4 linked regions of the Homo sapiens genome follow. The protein of the gene in region 3 interacts with the protein of the main gene of each other region in a biochemical or structural test. Each region holds a gene or a part of one and is shown on either strand. Other genes may lie near its edges.

Region 1 (3,500 bases), on a different chromosome or scaffold from region 3:
TTCCCAGAAGAGTAGATAACATAAAGTAACCAGCGATAATAATTTTCATTATCCAATTATTTCATGTGTCTCCATAACACTTAATACATCATGTTTCTCTGCACAGTAATTCACTATGTACAGCTAGGGTGAATAGCAGGAAAAAAGAGATCAGATGATAAAGAGAAGGGAGACAGATTTGTGTGACTTGTATAAGATACTTCGCCTCTCTAATCCTTTGTCCTTATCTGTAAGAAAGCAGCAGTACCCAGGCTGCTGTGAGGATCACATGAGACATTATGAGAGTTTAGCACAGGACTTGGCACATAACAAGCAGTTATTAGGATGATGTTAGTTTGGATTATGAATTCAAGATACTACAGCTACATTTTTTATACTTTCTTAAACATCAATTTAAGTCAATTTTAATTAACGTTATTTTACTAGGAGAAATGTCTCTAAAAACATAAGAATTCTATTTGAAGTCTACAATGATAATTACATTACTCTGATATCTTAACTTCCTCTTTATGATTTCAAATAATTAAAATTTAAGTTTATGTTTTCAACAAGTGCTTATTGAACCTCTACTCTTTGCCAGTCACTGTTGAGGACACAGAAGAAATGGATAAGATATCACTAAAAACAGCTTCTGCGATATCAGTGGGTATACATAAATTATTCACACTCAACAACAAACACAAGCAAAGCTGGGAGAATGTGCTGACAGGAAAGAAAATGAAGAGTGGGAGAGTGGACAGATGGGAATCGATGTGAAATTTTATAAAACATGTCTTGGCCAAGCTCAGTAGGGGAAATATGTGGAAAGTAAGCTAGACCAAACAGAGAATAAAAGTATAAATAAGAAAAAAAATCCAGAGGTCACAGTGGACCACTAGCCAAAATGGGTTCACAGCAAACAAACAAAAAAATGTAATGAAATACTAAAATTAAAGAAGTACAAATAAAAATGAGATTCTGTTCTTATCTGTCAGAATGGCAAAGATTCAAAGAGTAAAATATTCAGAGTTGTTATGGGTGTAGTGTGGAACTGGTCTCATATGTGGCTAGAAAAAGGGAGAACTGGTATAATCCTTCCAGAGAATAATCTGGTAATTATTTTTTAAATTGGCAAATATTTAAATTTGGCAAAGACTTAAAAAATATATATACCCATTGGCTCAATAATTCCTTTCTAGGCACCAATACTAATAAAAAGTATTCAAAAAATTAAATAGATGGTGTACTGCAATATAATGAGTGAAACATCGCAAGCAGCATCACTTTATACACTAGGATATTGGTTATAAAATGGTAATACATATTTTAGATAGAATATAATGAAACAAAAATTTTGCTTATCAAAAAATGTTAGTAACATGGGAAAATGCTTGTAAAACAATGCTAACTGAGAAGAGCAGGACAGGTAGGTAGATACAAGGCCAAACAGATACACACGGTGGAGAGACATATCCCAATTGTTAGGAATTTGCTGTGGTTGGTTAGGATCTGAACAATTTATATTGACTTTGTGATGACTTTTAAACGTTTTCTCTACCATAAGAATTTTTTATGTTTATAATTTATGCTAAAGAACAAGATGTATTTTTTGTAATTCAGGAGTAAAGAGGAGAGTGGGGTATTCCAGGGTGCTGTTCCTGCCCTAACCAGGAGCACGATGCAGTCATAGGCCTCTGCCCTCCTCCAGCAGCCTCGGCTCAGAACAGGACGAAGCCAACCCTCTCTGACCAGCACCACCTCGGGCGACCCCTGGACGCTCCACCTGCCCCTGTGTGTGGTACCTGCCCTGCTACACCTTTAACAAGCACCCCTGCAAGCTCCCTCCTCCTTCCTTCCCTGTCCTGTGGCTGCCCAGACCCAGATGTACCCTGCCTGGGTGTGGGAGGCCGCACATCAGAGCAGTCTATGGCTGTGGGCTTCACAGCTGAAGCTGGGCCGTGGGAAATGTTGAGACGAGTGAGTGCAGAGCCTGAAAGACAATACGGTAGAAAAGGTTACATCCGCGGGGGGGCGTCTGATGGCATCTGCCATTTATTGAGGATGGGTGCGAGACAGGGTAGCCATTATGATCCCATTTTACAGGTGACGAAACTGAGATCAGACAGGCTAGCTACCTTGCCCAGGGTCACAACAGGAAGGAAGCAAATGCAAGTGTGTCTGCGGCCACGTAAGGTGAGAGAAGCGCTATCAGGGGTGGTCTGACAGAATCCCCAGGCCAGGGAGCAGTTGTCCTCTATCCTGTGGGGTCAAAGGAGGGGACAAGAAGGCTCTCCTTGAGGTAGCTCCAAAGAAAAGACCCCGCCAGAGCACAGTGTGCTACCAAACGCTGGAACAGCCTGGAGACTGTCCCTGTCTCTTCTCTGAGGTTTCTCATTTCAGAGAAACTCTCATCCGTCTGGCTTCCCCATGGCCCTTACTCTGTGATTCTCTTATGTATCAGCTGTTAAACCAATAAATCCGCCAAATTGTTGGGATGCCTATAATGGCTTTGGGTCTCCACTCCCACAGAGGGAATCTTATTCTAAAGTTCTAAATGTATCAGTCATATTTTCCTGAAGACAACAGAAATGGTTGTTTCATTTACTTATTTTTATGTATGCTTTTTCAAGAGTTGTTAACCTGTGTTTGTGTTTAAATAAAGATCTGTTTTGCAAAACAAAAACTTTATGAGATAATCACTTATAAACGTAGATAATTAAGAAATGGTTCAGGCTCAGCACATTGTCTGAGAGCATTGCAGTCCTGCACTGTATTTCATGGGGGAAGAAAAGCCCACAGATGGAGCCATTCTCAATCCTGCTTTCCAGGGTCACTGAGTCAGGGTGCCTGGCATGCATGGGTGCATGCACACACAGGCAGAGGGCCAGGGAGAACTGTGCTGTGTCCACAGAGGGCAGCCTGGATCACAGAGCTGACCAAGAACGGAAGCAGCAAGTTGTTTTAAAGTAGTTGCCTGTAAAGCCACTTTTCGGCAAGGACAAACACTCAGAGCATGCTCTGAAATGACTTATGCACAGCAGGGCAGCGGCATTTTGCCCCTGGCCTTCCTTCCATTCTCCCGGAATCCCCCTAAAGTAACAAGGACTGACGCAATTCGTATTTCACTTAGCCAACAGGTTGATGAAAAATCATAAATCTGTAGCTATTAAACTCATTAATCACATCCATCAAAATTCTGTGAGGAGTTAACTTTCTTCATATAACTCTTAGTCTTAATTAAGTTTCCCTCACATGTGATAGCAAACGTTCAAGAAGTGCAAATGTGCAGACGTGGCGTATATAATGCAAGCTTTATGTCTTTAAATTAATAAAATTGAGTCCTATCAGGTCGTGTTTCAATTACCATCAAACCTTCCAACCTCTGTTAATTCAAAAAAAAGTAACTTCTTTAGGCAAGTCATGGAAATAGCACTAGGGTGCCCTCAGGTCTCCACCAAGCCTTGTTAGTAACTTTCCATGTCCTGTCTGATTTTTAAGATGCTTTCCCCTGATGCTGCTGC
Region 2 (2,542 bases), on a different chromosome or scaffold from region 3:
TTCCCCGCTGCAGCCCCGGAAAGCCAGCGCCACATGCAGTTCGGCCACAGCAGCAGCCTCCAGTGGCCTGGAGGAGTGGACTAGCCGGTCCCCGCGGCAGCGGAGTTCAGCCTCGTCACCTGAGCACCCTGAGCTGCATGCTGAATTGGGCATGAAGCCCCCTTCCCCAGGCACTGTTTTAGCTCTTGCCAAACCTCCTTCGCCCTGTGCGCCAGGTCAGTGACTTGCCCACAGGGAATGTGCTGGGAGTTAGGAGGCACGTCCTGGGTCCTGGGTCCTGGATCCTGGGTCCCTACCTTTGACTGTCCGTCTGCTTCAGGTACAAGCAGTCAGTTCTCGGCAGGGGCCGACCGGGCAACTTCCCCCCTTGTGTCCCTCTACCCTGCTTTGGAGTGCCGGGCCCTCATTCAGCAGATGTCCCCCTCTGCCTTTGGTAAGCCTCCTTTGTCTGGGGGGATGGAGGCTGCTAGGAGCTGGGAGAGACTGGAAGAAGTGGCAAGTCCTGAGAGGGGCTTTCTGGAGCCTCTGGCCATCTCCCCAAGAAAAGAAGGGAGAGGCACTGGAGGGGATTTTTCAGATCCAAGGAATTTGCCCCAGAAGGGTCTGGGGTCTAAGTGGGGTTTCACAGGCCTAGCAGATCCTTCTGTTTTGAGAAAGGAGTGAGAAGGGCCCTATGGGATTTCTCCAGAGCCCCAGATGTCGGCACAGGGTGAGGAGAAGGCAGGCTGAGAGCGCTCCATCATCCTTTTCCTCTTCCTCTCGCCCAGCAGGTCTGAATGACTGGGATGATGATGAGATCCTAGCTTCGGTGCTGGCAGTGTCCCAACAGGAATACCTAGACAGTATGAAGAAAAACAAAGTGCACAGAGACCCGCCCCCAGACAAGAGTTGATGGAGACCCAGGGATTGGACACCATCTCCCAACCCCAGTACTCCTGCTCTCCGGTGCCACCTCACCTTCTTTGGCTTCTTCCCTCTTGCCTCCTTCTGTTCTTTCTGCTCTCCCCTCTTTTCCCTCCTCCTCACTTCCCTCTGGCTAGCCCACCCCTGCACTCTCTCTCATTGCCGCTGCCACTATCACCTGTCTCTCTGCCAGCTGATGTGCCCTGTTGCCCCCCACCCCATCCCGCACAGAACCATCCCTGCATTCCACAGGGGACTCGGGCAAGGGTGCCGAAGATAGACAAGAGGCACACAGAGACAGACCAACTGGCAGCCAGGCAGCCCCAGAGGAGAGAGACATTCAGACAGAGGAAAGTCTCCCTGCCCCTCATTCCTTCCAAGATGAGAAAAACTTGCCGCCACCCCCCGACACTGATGCCAGGGAGGTGGGAGGAAGAAGTGGGAAATTTCCCTTCCCAGTACCCCCAAGAACGTCTGAGCCTTCAATGTTGAATTTTTTCTTTATTAAAATTACTTTTATCTTATAAAATCAACTAATCAAAAATGATATAGACGACAGCACTGGCTCTGTGAAGGTGGCATCTTTCTGGGCAGGCAGGCCATGGGGCATGGAGGAGGGTGCAAAGATATGGGTTGCTGTCTTCTGGCCTCCAGCTGCATGGAGGCCGGCCCAGGGTCTAGGGTGTGCACTGGGCAAGGGCAGGGCGGCAGGTGTCAGGCCGGCTTGGACAATGAAACCCTGACCTTGCTGCATTCCTTTTGCTTCCACCACCACTAGCTTCTTTGGAATCTTGGGGTGGGGGTCATCTTTGGGGATTATGGCTGCCACCCGGGATTTGAGTGTAGGGAGTGTGGGAGCAGCCTTGGCAGATGGGGCACCCGTGCCCTGCAGGTGTTGACAAGATCCGCCATCTGTAATGTCCTTGGCACAATAAAACCAAATGTCAGTTTCCCTGAGCGACTCTGTTCTGTGTGGGGCAGGGGTTGGGCGGGCCTCTGGGCAGAGGATGCAATGGCACGGACCTTGGCTTGACCTCAGAGGTGTGAATGCTCTCCAGCAGGGTCTGTCTGGGGGCCTGGAGTTTGTATTTGATTTGCTGCTTATTAAACCTCCTTCTGGACCTATTGCCACTGGAAAAGCTGCGTCTTTGCCTGCTGACCCCACCCCTGCCTACCCTATTTCCTGGGGGGGGGGGGGTGATGGTAGCAGAGGACTGTGAGCTTGAACTTCCTGCCTGAATTCCAGCTTCTCCGCCTGCCTCTCACCATGAATGCTGCTCTTTCCTTATCATGATCTGATGAAGAAAAGCCTTGGAAAAGTGCAACTGATACTTTGTAGCAACATGAGTTTAGTGGAAGTAACCAGAGGGGCCTCACCCACTAGGTTTTAGAAGGTGAAGGACGGCTAAACCCTTTTTTGTTCTTGTCCCCCAGTCTGACACCTCTTTGCCTGTCCTCCCTAGGGGTAAATCCAAGGTAAAGAAGGCTGGCTGGCCCCCAGGTTTTCTCAAGCAGCTTTTTCACCATGCCATGATAATGGAGACCCTCTGACAGGATGTGTGTCTGGTTCTGCAGTTGAGGGCATGGCTAGCTGAGTGGCTGTCTGCGGAGTGTGTCTGGAACCCAGTGGCCAAGCATC
Region 3 (5,254 bases):
CCCTAGAGTTCCAGCACGAGGCCTGAGATGCATTACATTCTCAAATATCCATATGAAAAGGTCTGGGGTCTCTAGTTCCCCAATGGTGACTTCTTTTCATATTATAGGAAGCCTGACAGGAGCTCTCCTCTAAGCAAAGCCCAGAGTTGGACTCATTTCACTATAAGAGGCTAAATTCCTCATACTCACATCCTGACAACATTAGGCTATAAGGAGCTTGGGGAAAATCCAGCCATCCATTCACTCCCGCCCCTTAGTGGACTGGGTTATTTTCACCACACAGAAACACTGCAGGGAAAATAGCCACTTGTGTGACCCTCTTTAGCTCTTTCCCTCCCTCCCTGATCAATGTGAGCTTATATAATTGGCTTAAATGAGGAAGTCAGTAGAAGGGGCTAGGGCCAGCCCCAGGCTCTGACTCACGCAAGGGCCAGTGCTGGGTCTGCAGCCTGTGGCCAGGGATGAACAGGAATGTTCCTGTTCCCCATGAGGTTTGCTAAAAGACCCCTTTGGTGGTAGGTTGACACCCCAGCAAGTGGCCTAGCATGGTCCGAGGCAGCCGCATAGCCTGTCTGCATGATAGCAGGCTTCAGGGATCCAGCTTAGCTGGAGGCTTGACTGTGCTAGCCTCGGTGGTACCTGCACTGTCATTCCATATGTCACAATCCAGGGAAGAGAGGCTATCACCGAGAAGAGTTGTCAGTAAGAAGGCAGGACACTCTAACACGAGCAAACCCACCAGGCTTCTGTTGATCCAGGGCAGCATCCCCCTCGCCTGGCAGAGTTCCTTGCCCCACAGCCAAGGCTATGGGAAGCAAGGCCTCCAGCAAAGCTCATGGCTGCCACCAAAGCATCTCTGCCAAGATGCTTCTTATGATACTTAGGAAGGATTTCCACCCAAACTGGATCAGGGTCACCATGACCCTGAATCACAAATCCAACACAGGCTGATTCCAATCATGGTTTGAAGCTTTAGCTGAAAAGTTTGCTGTTTGAAAACCATCAATGTGGGGGCGATGGGTGTGCAGGGTAGGAAGGGAACGCACTATTTTCCAGTGGAGGAAGAGGGTATGCCTCTTTAGGAAACTGTTCTGGGTAGAGACTGCTGTGGGTGTTTCCTCAAGCACAGATAATAACCAGGAGATCAAGCCCCAACATGCGGGTAATGGAGTTTATGTAACATTGAAACTCAATGACTTTGGAACTTTAAAAACATCTATAGTAAGAATTCAAAACACCAAGATCTGAAGGCTACCCCAGAGAGCAAAGGGGCAGCCTTCAGATCCAAGTGGCCCAAGACAGAACCTACAGTAGCTATGGATTTTCTCTAAGAGGAATCGGGCACTCATGACTTCACTTCCCAGAGCTCTGCCCAGCTGCCCAGCAGCCTGGAGATTTCCAGAACAATGGGGAGTAGGTCACCCTGCCCTGATAGGCACCAGGGGGTGGAAACGCCTCCTCGCCCACAACACAATCACTCTCACCCCTTTCCTGGCTAAATCCCACCTCCCACCCTCCCGCCAGCTCCCCTCCCATGCTCCCAATCCTTGGGACCTCTTGGGGAATTATCCAAGGAGAGTTCTGCCTGCTGTATTTTCACTAGGGTCTTGGGACTTCTGCAGGCAGTCAGCCCAAGTGCCTACAGCCTGCCTACTTGGGGGAGCAGATGGAGAGTGTGGCACCAGCAGAAAATACCCAGAAAGCCGGGTACAAAGCCTCAGTAAAGTCCACCCTGAACTTATACATCAGGTGGACCTTGTCGGCAACAGCGAAGAAGATGACAAAGCCGTGGTCACAGTTGAGAAGCACGCCCACCCGCGTGGCCTTGGTGGAGGGCAGGGTTTTCTCCACGTTATTGTGCCAGGCAGAGATCTTGGTGTTGAACCACTCCACGCACCAGGAGGCGCTGTTGCGGCCGAGCCTGCTTTCTGGGCCCTGCCGGTTCATGCTTCCGTAGCAGATGCCTACCCCACAGAAGTTGTTCTTCTGCAGCTCCACCTCCCAGTAGTGGATCCCCTTCTTGTAGCAGTGCAGGCCCAGCACCTGAGAGCAGTATGTGAACCTCTGGGGATGCGGCCGGTAGTTCTGAGGCATCTCAGCCACAGAAGCTACTGTATAGCACTCTGACAGAGCCACTTTGTTGTGGGCGGTGTTGTAGTCCAGGATGACTTTAATGTAATCTGAGAAAACATCACCCCAAGGAATTAATTACAAGGGGCCCAAAGTGCTCTTTTAGACCTTTGCCAAAGTGGTACTATTTATTCACTAGTTTTATCCATCCATGCACCCATCTACCCATTGGTCCATCCATCCACTCATCTATCCATCTGTCTGTCTATTCATCCATCTATCTGTCTATCCATGTATCCATCAATCCATCCATGTATCCATCCATCCATCTATCCATCTACCCATGTATCCATATACCCATCTATCTACCTATCTATCCATTCTTCCATTCATCCATCTATCCACTTATCTATCCATCCTTCTGCCTTTCCATTTATCCATTCATTCATTCATTAATCTATCCACTTATCTATCCATCTGTCCATTTATCCATCCACCCATCTATCCACCCATCCATTATTCATCAGCTCATCTATCCATCCATTCATCCATCCATTCTGTCCAGCCAGCCAGCCATCTATCATCTATCAGTCATCCGTATGTCTGTCCATTCATCCATCCAAAACCATTTACCAGGCACCTGACTGACACCAGATTCTGGCACAAGATGCACAACCATGAACCAGAGAGACAAGGTGCCGGGCCTCATGGAGTTCACACTCCAACAAGCAAGGCAAGTCCATCAGTAACAACACCATGAGACTCACACTCTGCCAAAAGGGTAAGCACACACTGTAGGGACACAGAGACAAGGCAACTGATGCTACAGTTGGGGAACATTTCACTGGCAGGCTGGAATTGGAGCCAAGTAACAGAAGATGAGAACTAGACAGAGGAGAACAGAGAGAGAAAAGCTGTTCCAGACAGAGGGAACAGTGAGAGTGAAGCCACGGAGTGCCAAGGGGATTCGCATGTGCTGGGATCGGGGAAGCTGGGTGGCTGGGAACACAGATGCAGCAGGAGAAGGGAAACATGTTGGGGCTAGAAAGGGAAGGGCTTAGGAGGCTAGACTTTAACTGGTGGGCAGCAGGGAGCCAAGCGAGGCACTCATTTGCTAGGTGGCTCAGGGCATGACACTTTTCACTGGAGCCCGAGTTTCCCCCAAGGCAAAATGAATAAGCTGGGGGTGGAAAAGGCCCTAAGTTGATAGAATTTTACTTTCCCTGTTTATGCGGCTGCCACAGAGTGCACAGCAGCTCCTGAAAGACGTGGCTCAGCACCGCCGCTAGCAGCTTGGGCAAGAGTTAGCTGCAGCCCAGGGCTGGTCTGGGCCTCTCTTGGGGGGCAGGGACAGCGGAGGGCTACAAGAAGGCCAGCCCTGAAAAAGCAAGGGACCCACAGATCCCCACCAAGCCTGCTGCAGCTGCTTATGATAAAGGAAGGGCTATATTTTTCAGTGATTGGCTTTGGCCTCCACATGGAAGTGGGTACCACTGGCAGGTGCTGCCTGGAGTGTTGCACGTGGGTGCAGAAGAAACAAGAAGACGGAAAGTGGGAGGGCCCTAGGCCTGGCCTTGACAACGGAACTCCACCCACTTCCAGGTTGGACGAGCTTGCAAAGGAGGGGTGGATGGAAACCCAGGGGGGTATAGCAGCTCAAGCGGCAAGGGGAGAGAGTGTCAGAAGGAGGAGGAATGCCACTGACAGGTGAAGCTAAATAAAAGCTGAAAGGCGTCCCTGGATTTTGTGACACGGAGTACCCTGATGACCTCAGAGCTGCCTGGGTCAAGGGCAGGACAGAGGTCAGAATGCAGTGGCACGAGGATTAGACTTCAGGCTCCCACCTCGGCCCCACATTGCAACCCTGGGCAGCCAAACACCAACATTCTGAATGAACCAGTCTGGGGGACAGCCTGGGCATCGGGGATTTTAAAAAGCTCCCCAGGATTCCAACACGCAGCCACAGTTGAGAGCCACCAATGTAGAAAATCTGCAGAGCTGCTTTTCCCCAACTGTCCTCAAAAGGATCATGGAGGAAATGAGCTAAACATACAGCTTTCCGTGCTTGCCTGAGTCTGATCTTGTAGGGCTAGAACAGGGCCCAGGAATTTGGTTTTTGGGGTTTTTTGTTTGTTTGTTTGTTTTTTAAGACAGAGTCTCGCTCTGTTGCCCAGACTGGAGTGCAGTGGCACAATCTCGGCTCACTGCAACCTCCACCTCCCAAGTTCAAGTGATTCTCGTGCCTCAGCCTCCCAAGTAGCTGGGATTATAGGCATGTGCCACCACGCCCGGCTAATTTTTTGTATTTTTAGTAGAGATGGGGTTTTGCCATGTTGGCCAGGCTGGTCTTGAACTCCTGACCTCAGGTGATCCACCTGCCTCGGGCTCCCAAAGTGCTGGGATTACAGGCATGAGCCACCGCACCCAGCTAGTAATTTGTATTTTTAACAAGCATTCGGGTGAAAGGGAGGCAGGAAACAGAGCTGCAGCTGAGACAGTTTTGCTAGGTTTGTTTTTGTGATTTGGAGAGATGTAAACGTGCTACAGATAGGCAAGCCTAGGTAGAGATGCTGAGGGTGAAGAGATGGGAATGGAAAGGCCTAAGAGAGAGCAGAAGATTCCAGAGAGCGTGTGGGGAGCAGACTCCAGAGCCCAGGGCCAGGGGGTCTTGGGAAAGGGGCCAGGAGGCGAGGAAGGGGGCACAGTAGATGCAGATGCGATGTCAATAACAGAGCAGGGGGAGCCCCTTCTACAGTGTCTGTCTTTTTCGTGAAGCAGAAGGTGGGCGGGACAGGGAGAAGGATGGAGCTATGGCCAGTGGGAAGTCTTGGGAATGGTGGCTCTGGAGAGTGGTGGGGAGGAGACAGGAGATGCAGGGCAGGCATGCCGGCAACGGGACGCCCGGTGAAGGCCGGTGACCGCAATCGCCCTGCCTTCTCTGCAGAGGACATGCAGGCGCCGACCCACAGAGAAAGGTGAGCTCAATTGGGCCAGACTAGACGGCAAGAGGGAGAGTCAAAGGACCGATTGTGAAATCTGAGCTAGTTAGGAAAAGTAAAGAAAGGCACTGATGACTGGGAGAAAATAAGGGAGCAACAAAGTAGAGGACAAGTGAAGGGGAGTGGCTGATATAGCCGGCCAGCTGGCCTCACAGAGAGCTGCACAGAGCGGCGCAGGAGAGACA
Region 4 (4,272 bases), on a different chromosome or scaffold from region 3:
TTGGAAAATCCTACAAATATTTACAGAGCACCTACTCTGGGCTGAGAACTCTTACAGGCCCTGGGGATGCAAAAGGAATAAAACTCCCAAGGTAACATTTTTTTCCTTTGGTAACAGCTTATTGAGATACAATTCGCATATTGAGATAGAACTATTTAAAGTGTACAATGATTTTTCAATTCAGAGTTGGGCAATCATCACCTCAATTTTACATTTTCATTACTTTGAAAACAAACCTATCCCAGCCAGTGACTCACGCCTGTAATCCCTGCACTTTGTGAAGGCAAGGTGGGAGGATCACTTGAGCTCAGGAGCCACAGACTGGTCTGGACAACATAGCAAGACGCTGTCTCTACCAAAAATTAAAAATTAGCCAGGTGTGGTGGCATACGCCTGTAATCCCAGCTACTGGAGAGACTGAAGCAGGAAGATTTCTTGAGTCCAGGAGATGGAGGATGCAGTGAGCATGCCACTGTACTCTAGCCTGGGCCACAGACCCTGTCTCTTAAAAGAAACCTGCACCCTTTATCACCCCCTACTCCCCTCTTCCTCCCATCCCTAAGCAATCATTAATCAACTTTCTGTGTCTGTATATGTACTTGCCTATTGTGGACATTTCATATCAATGGAATCACACAACACGTGGACCTTTGTGGCTGTCTTCTTTGACTTAGCACGTGTTTAAGGTTCGTTCCTATTGTAGCATGTATCAGTAGTTCATTTTTATGGCCGAATAGTACATTTTATGGATGTATCACATTTATCCACTCATCGCTTGACGGACATTAGCGTTGTTCCCATCTTTTGATTGTTAGAATGTAATCAACATTTGTGTACAAGTTTTGTGTGGAGGTATGTTTCCACTTTTCTTAGAGGAGTGGAATTACTGGGTCAAATGGTCACTCTTGTTTGACTTTAAGGAAAGGACAGGTTATTTTCCAAGACAGCTGCACCATTTGACATTCTCACTTCTGGGGTATGAGGGAACACATTTTTATTTCCCGCTAAATCAGGTTCATTTTTTAGTTTCTGCTGGAGGCTACTAGCAAACAGCAGAAACTTGAAAGACTGTTAATATTCTTTCTTCTGGGGTTTCGGGCACCAGGGAAGCTGCGCGGCCCCTAGGAGTGCTGGGGGTAACCTCTTCAGAGGGTTAATGGGGTGGGGGGGGGGCAAGTGGCCGACGGCCTGGTGGCCAGGGTGCCCCGCGCCCTGAGGCCCTGCCCGCCTGCCAGCGCCTGCGAGCCCGAGTGACCCCTGCGCCGCGGCCGGAGCAGGTGCCCTCTGTGTCTGCGGGCCCAGCCAAGCCGTGGTGCGGACGGCGGATGATGCTGGGTGCCCGCCCCCCGGCCTGAGGCCCGGGGCTACGCCCGCTAGGCGGCGGCGCGACCGCTGGGGGCGGGGGACGAAGGCCGCGCCCCTGCGCCCGTCCCGCCAGCGTCCCGCTGGGGGCGGCGGCCTGTCCCGAGCCCGCCCAGGCTCTTCCGCGCCGGCAGGGGCAGCAGCGGGAGCAGCGCGGGGCGGAGCGGCGCCAGCAGCCAGGAGCGGCCCGGCCCGGCCCGGCGCGGCGGCGGCGGCGGCAGCGGCAGCGGCAGCGACGCCAGAGCCCGTGGGCGCCGTTCGCGAGGCCGCCGCAGAGGCCCGGCCGCAGCGCAGGGAAGCCTGGGGGCCAGAGGTCGCCGCTGCCGCCATGCCGCTGCTCTTCCTCGAGCGCTTCCCCTGGCCCAGCCTCCGCACCTACACGGGCCTCAGCGGCCTGGCCCTGCTGGGCACCATCATCAGCGCCTACCGCGCGCTCAGCCAGCCCGAGGCCGGCCCCGGCGAGCCGGACCAGCTAACGGCCTCGCTGCAGCCTGAGCCGCCGGCGCCCGCCCGGCCGAGCGCCGGGGGACCCCGGGCCCGCGATGTGGCCCAGTACCTGCTCTCAGACAGCCTCTTCGTGTGGGTGAGCGAGGCGGCCGGGCCCGCGGGGCAGGGGCGGGGTCCGCTGCGTCACCCTTTATCCGCGGGGGCGTGGTGGGCCTAGGGGCCCCTCCGCCAGGGACCCCCGAGGGCGAGCGCCTGGGGGGCGCGGCCTTGCTCGCGGGAGCGCTGCTGAGGGAGAGTGGTGAGGCGCGGGGAGGGGGAGGGGGCCGCGGGCGGGAGGAACATCGCGTGGGGTTGCGAGGAGGAGGCCCCGAGGGGCAGGCCAGCGTTGAGGGCTCCGGGAAGGGGGTCGGGGAGGCGGCGGGTGATGGTCTGCGCTGGGGCGCGGACGGGGCCTGGGGCAGGGGAAGGGGTTAAGGGGCAGTGGGGAGGAACGGGCTGGGTTTTCTGAGGGACCCTCGGGAGAAACTAGAAGATCTCAGAGGGCAGGTTCAAGGGGAGGTCGGGATCTGGGAGTGCGTTATCCCGAGGGTTGGACGAAGTAGAGTGAAGTTGAAAGCTTTTCCCACTTGGTCAGGCATGGGATTGTTAGCGGATTTTCTTCCGACGAAGAGGAGAGGGCAGAGGGGAGAATTCAGACGTTGAGTATGGGGGAATTTTCGGCACTCAGGTGTCTTTGGACATTCCGGTTGGAGAGAGGCCGTCTCCCACAACTTTTTTGCCGCTTAGTATTCGATTGTCCCCTTTGGGAGCTGTGTAATGAAACAAACACCAAACTGTGCTTCCTTTTCTGCTGCCTTTACCTGATGTTCATGACAGTTTTCCTTTGATGTCTGAACGCAGCAAAACATTCACAGTGTCAAGAGGCAGCCCATCATTTTAACTGAATGTTTCTTATTTGAGGATCTATTCTAACACAGTTTCCAGGTTGTCTGCCCCTGCGAGATAAGCAGCATTGATAAGGCACACATGCTGGTTTCGTTCATTAGAACAGATAATTTCAGACTGATCAGATCAACGGTATTTTGGCTAGAGAATTTTGCTTTCATCTTGGCCTTGAATACTTATGTAAATCCCGCAGTGATCAGAAAAGTTTCTCCAGGATTTAAAGCCTCACTTGGATTTAATATGGCTTCTTGGATCTTGTCTCCTTGCATGTTCCCATTTGGGGTTGAAAGTGGGCTGTAAATGACTGAGAGATTAATATTCCAAGTTGATAGTATGATATGCAACTCATTTGTTATAATTAGTCCCACTGTGCTTCATCAGGAAGCGGTGGGATTTATGGACTCTGTGGGCTGTAGATTAAGTCTCCTGGTCCTTCTGATGGAGAGTTTAGTAGAAGGCAGTGAAGGGTGAAGTTCCTGTTTATCTACTGCTGTGTAAAGCTGAACTTTACAGTCCTAAAGAAGGGAGAAGCGAAAGAACTCAACTCACATCTCTTGCTTAATTTCAAATCTGTTTTTGCATTTGAGTTAGCAGGTAAACAAAGTGATATGGAGAGTGTTTTTGCCATGTTAAGATTATAATGTAGTCTTTGATATTTTTTAAGTCTAAGATATAAATAAGCCTTTGAGAAGGAACCCTTATTTTATTTATATAACAACACTGGTATTGTTTAATGGATTTCCCCCCGCAGGACTTTATTTTGATAAAAGCCATGTTCAGATTCTAAAGTTAATATCTCTTCAGAAAACATTACATAAAAGCTGTTGATTTTTCTGTGATGATGATTACTTTTTAGGAAATTTCCTTTTCTTCCAGCATTTTCAGTAGAGGTCTTACCTCTGGCAGGTTTATCACTTCTTACTCTCCGCTGATGATATTTTCATTTCTCAGTTGATCCTAGTGCTGTTTTTCTTCCATCTTTCCTCTGGGGTCTCCACGTGTTTACTTTGGCCTGCTTTGGTTTCTCAGACCCTCCATGTGCTCACTGTTTGTCTCATCACTCAGTGTATATGTAGTTTCTGCTTTAGCAGCTGAGTAGAAGTGACAATCTCAAAAGCCTTCCCCAGTGGTGGGACAGATTAAGATTGTTGAGTGAATACCCTATGTGGTGGTGCCTTTGTCAACTGGATCCTCCTTGCGCCCTCCCCTAGTTCTATTGAATTCAGATTCAACTTTTTCACGAACACTGCCTGCCAAGGCCAAGCAAGACAAAACAAAGACTGATCCTTCTGCCAGTGCAAGTCCTGCTAGATATTAACATATTGTAATTCCCAAAACTTATCTTTTTAGAGCACAGTTTAGAATAATATCGGTCTGATAGCATCACAGGAGGTTTTTCATGAACAAACACAATTTAAAACCTTTCGAAGGTGTTATTTTGGGCACTTTGGAGGGCATATCTGTGAACAACACTTTCCCCTACCCTCAGTAATATGGCAAAATTTTATAGGGGATAAT

What was found. Proteins that work in one complex are often made in the same cells at the same time.
Region 1: the proteins of TRIM25 (region 3) and ERG form a complex in vitro, tested with the Homo sapiens proteins (one study listed by BioGRID).
Region 2: of the proteins of TRIM25 (region 3) and OTUD5, one has a biochemical effect on the other in vitro, tested with the Homo sapiens proteins (one study listed by BioGRID).
Region 4: the proteins of TRIM25 (region 3) and AMFR form a complex in vitro, tested with the Homo sapiens proteins (one study listed by BioGRID).

The regions. Positions count from the first base shown.
Region 1 is NC_000021.9:38,491,978-38,495,477, forward strand, and holds part of ERG (transcriptional regulator ERG), read right to left. Parts: intron 1-3,500. UniProt on the Homo sapiens protein: Transcriptional regulator. May participate in transcriptional regulation through the recruitment of SETDB1 histone methyltransferase and subsequent modification of local chromatin structure.
Region 2 is NC_000023.11:48,921,524-48,924,065, reverse strand, and holds the end of OTUD5 (OTU domain-containing protein 5), read left to right. Parts: intron 1-13; coding exon 14-215; intron 216-319; coding exon 320-433; intron 434-767; coding exon of another isoform or gene 768-770; coding exon 771-892; 3' UTR 893-2,042; downstream 2,043-2,542. UniProt on the Homo sapiens protein: Deubiquitinating enzyme that functions as a negative regulator of the innate immune system. Has peptidase activity towards 'Lys-48'- and 'Lys-63'-linked polyubiquitin chains. Can also cleave 'Lys-11'-linked ubiquitin chains (in vitro).
Region 3 is NC_000017.11:56,890,050-56,895,303, forward strand, and holds part of TRIM25 (E3 ubiquitin/ISG15 ligase TRIM25), read right to left. Parts: intron 2,181-5,254; coding exon 1,651-2,180; 3' UTR 1-1,650.
Region 4 is NC_000016.10:56,422,746-56,427,017, reverse strand, and holds the start of AMFR (E3 ubiquitin-protein ligase AMFR), read left to right. Parts: upstream 1-1,472; 5' UTR 1,473-1,690; coding exon 1,691-1,945; intron 1,946-2,028; exon of another isoform or gene 2,029-2,107; intron 2,108-2,283; exon of another isoform or gene 2,284-3,348; intron 3,349-4,272. UniProt on the Homo sapiens protein: E3 ubiquitin-protein ligase that mediates the polyubiquitination of lysine and cysteine residues on target proteins, such as CD3D, CYP3A4, CFTR, INSIG1, SOAT2/ACAT2 and APOB for proteasomal degradation.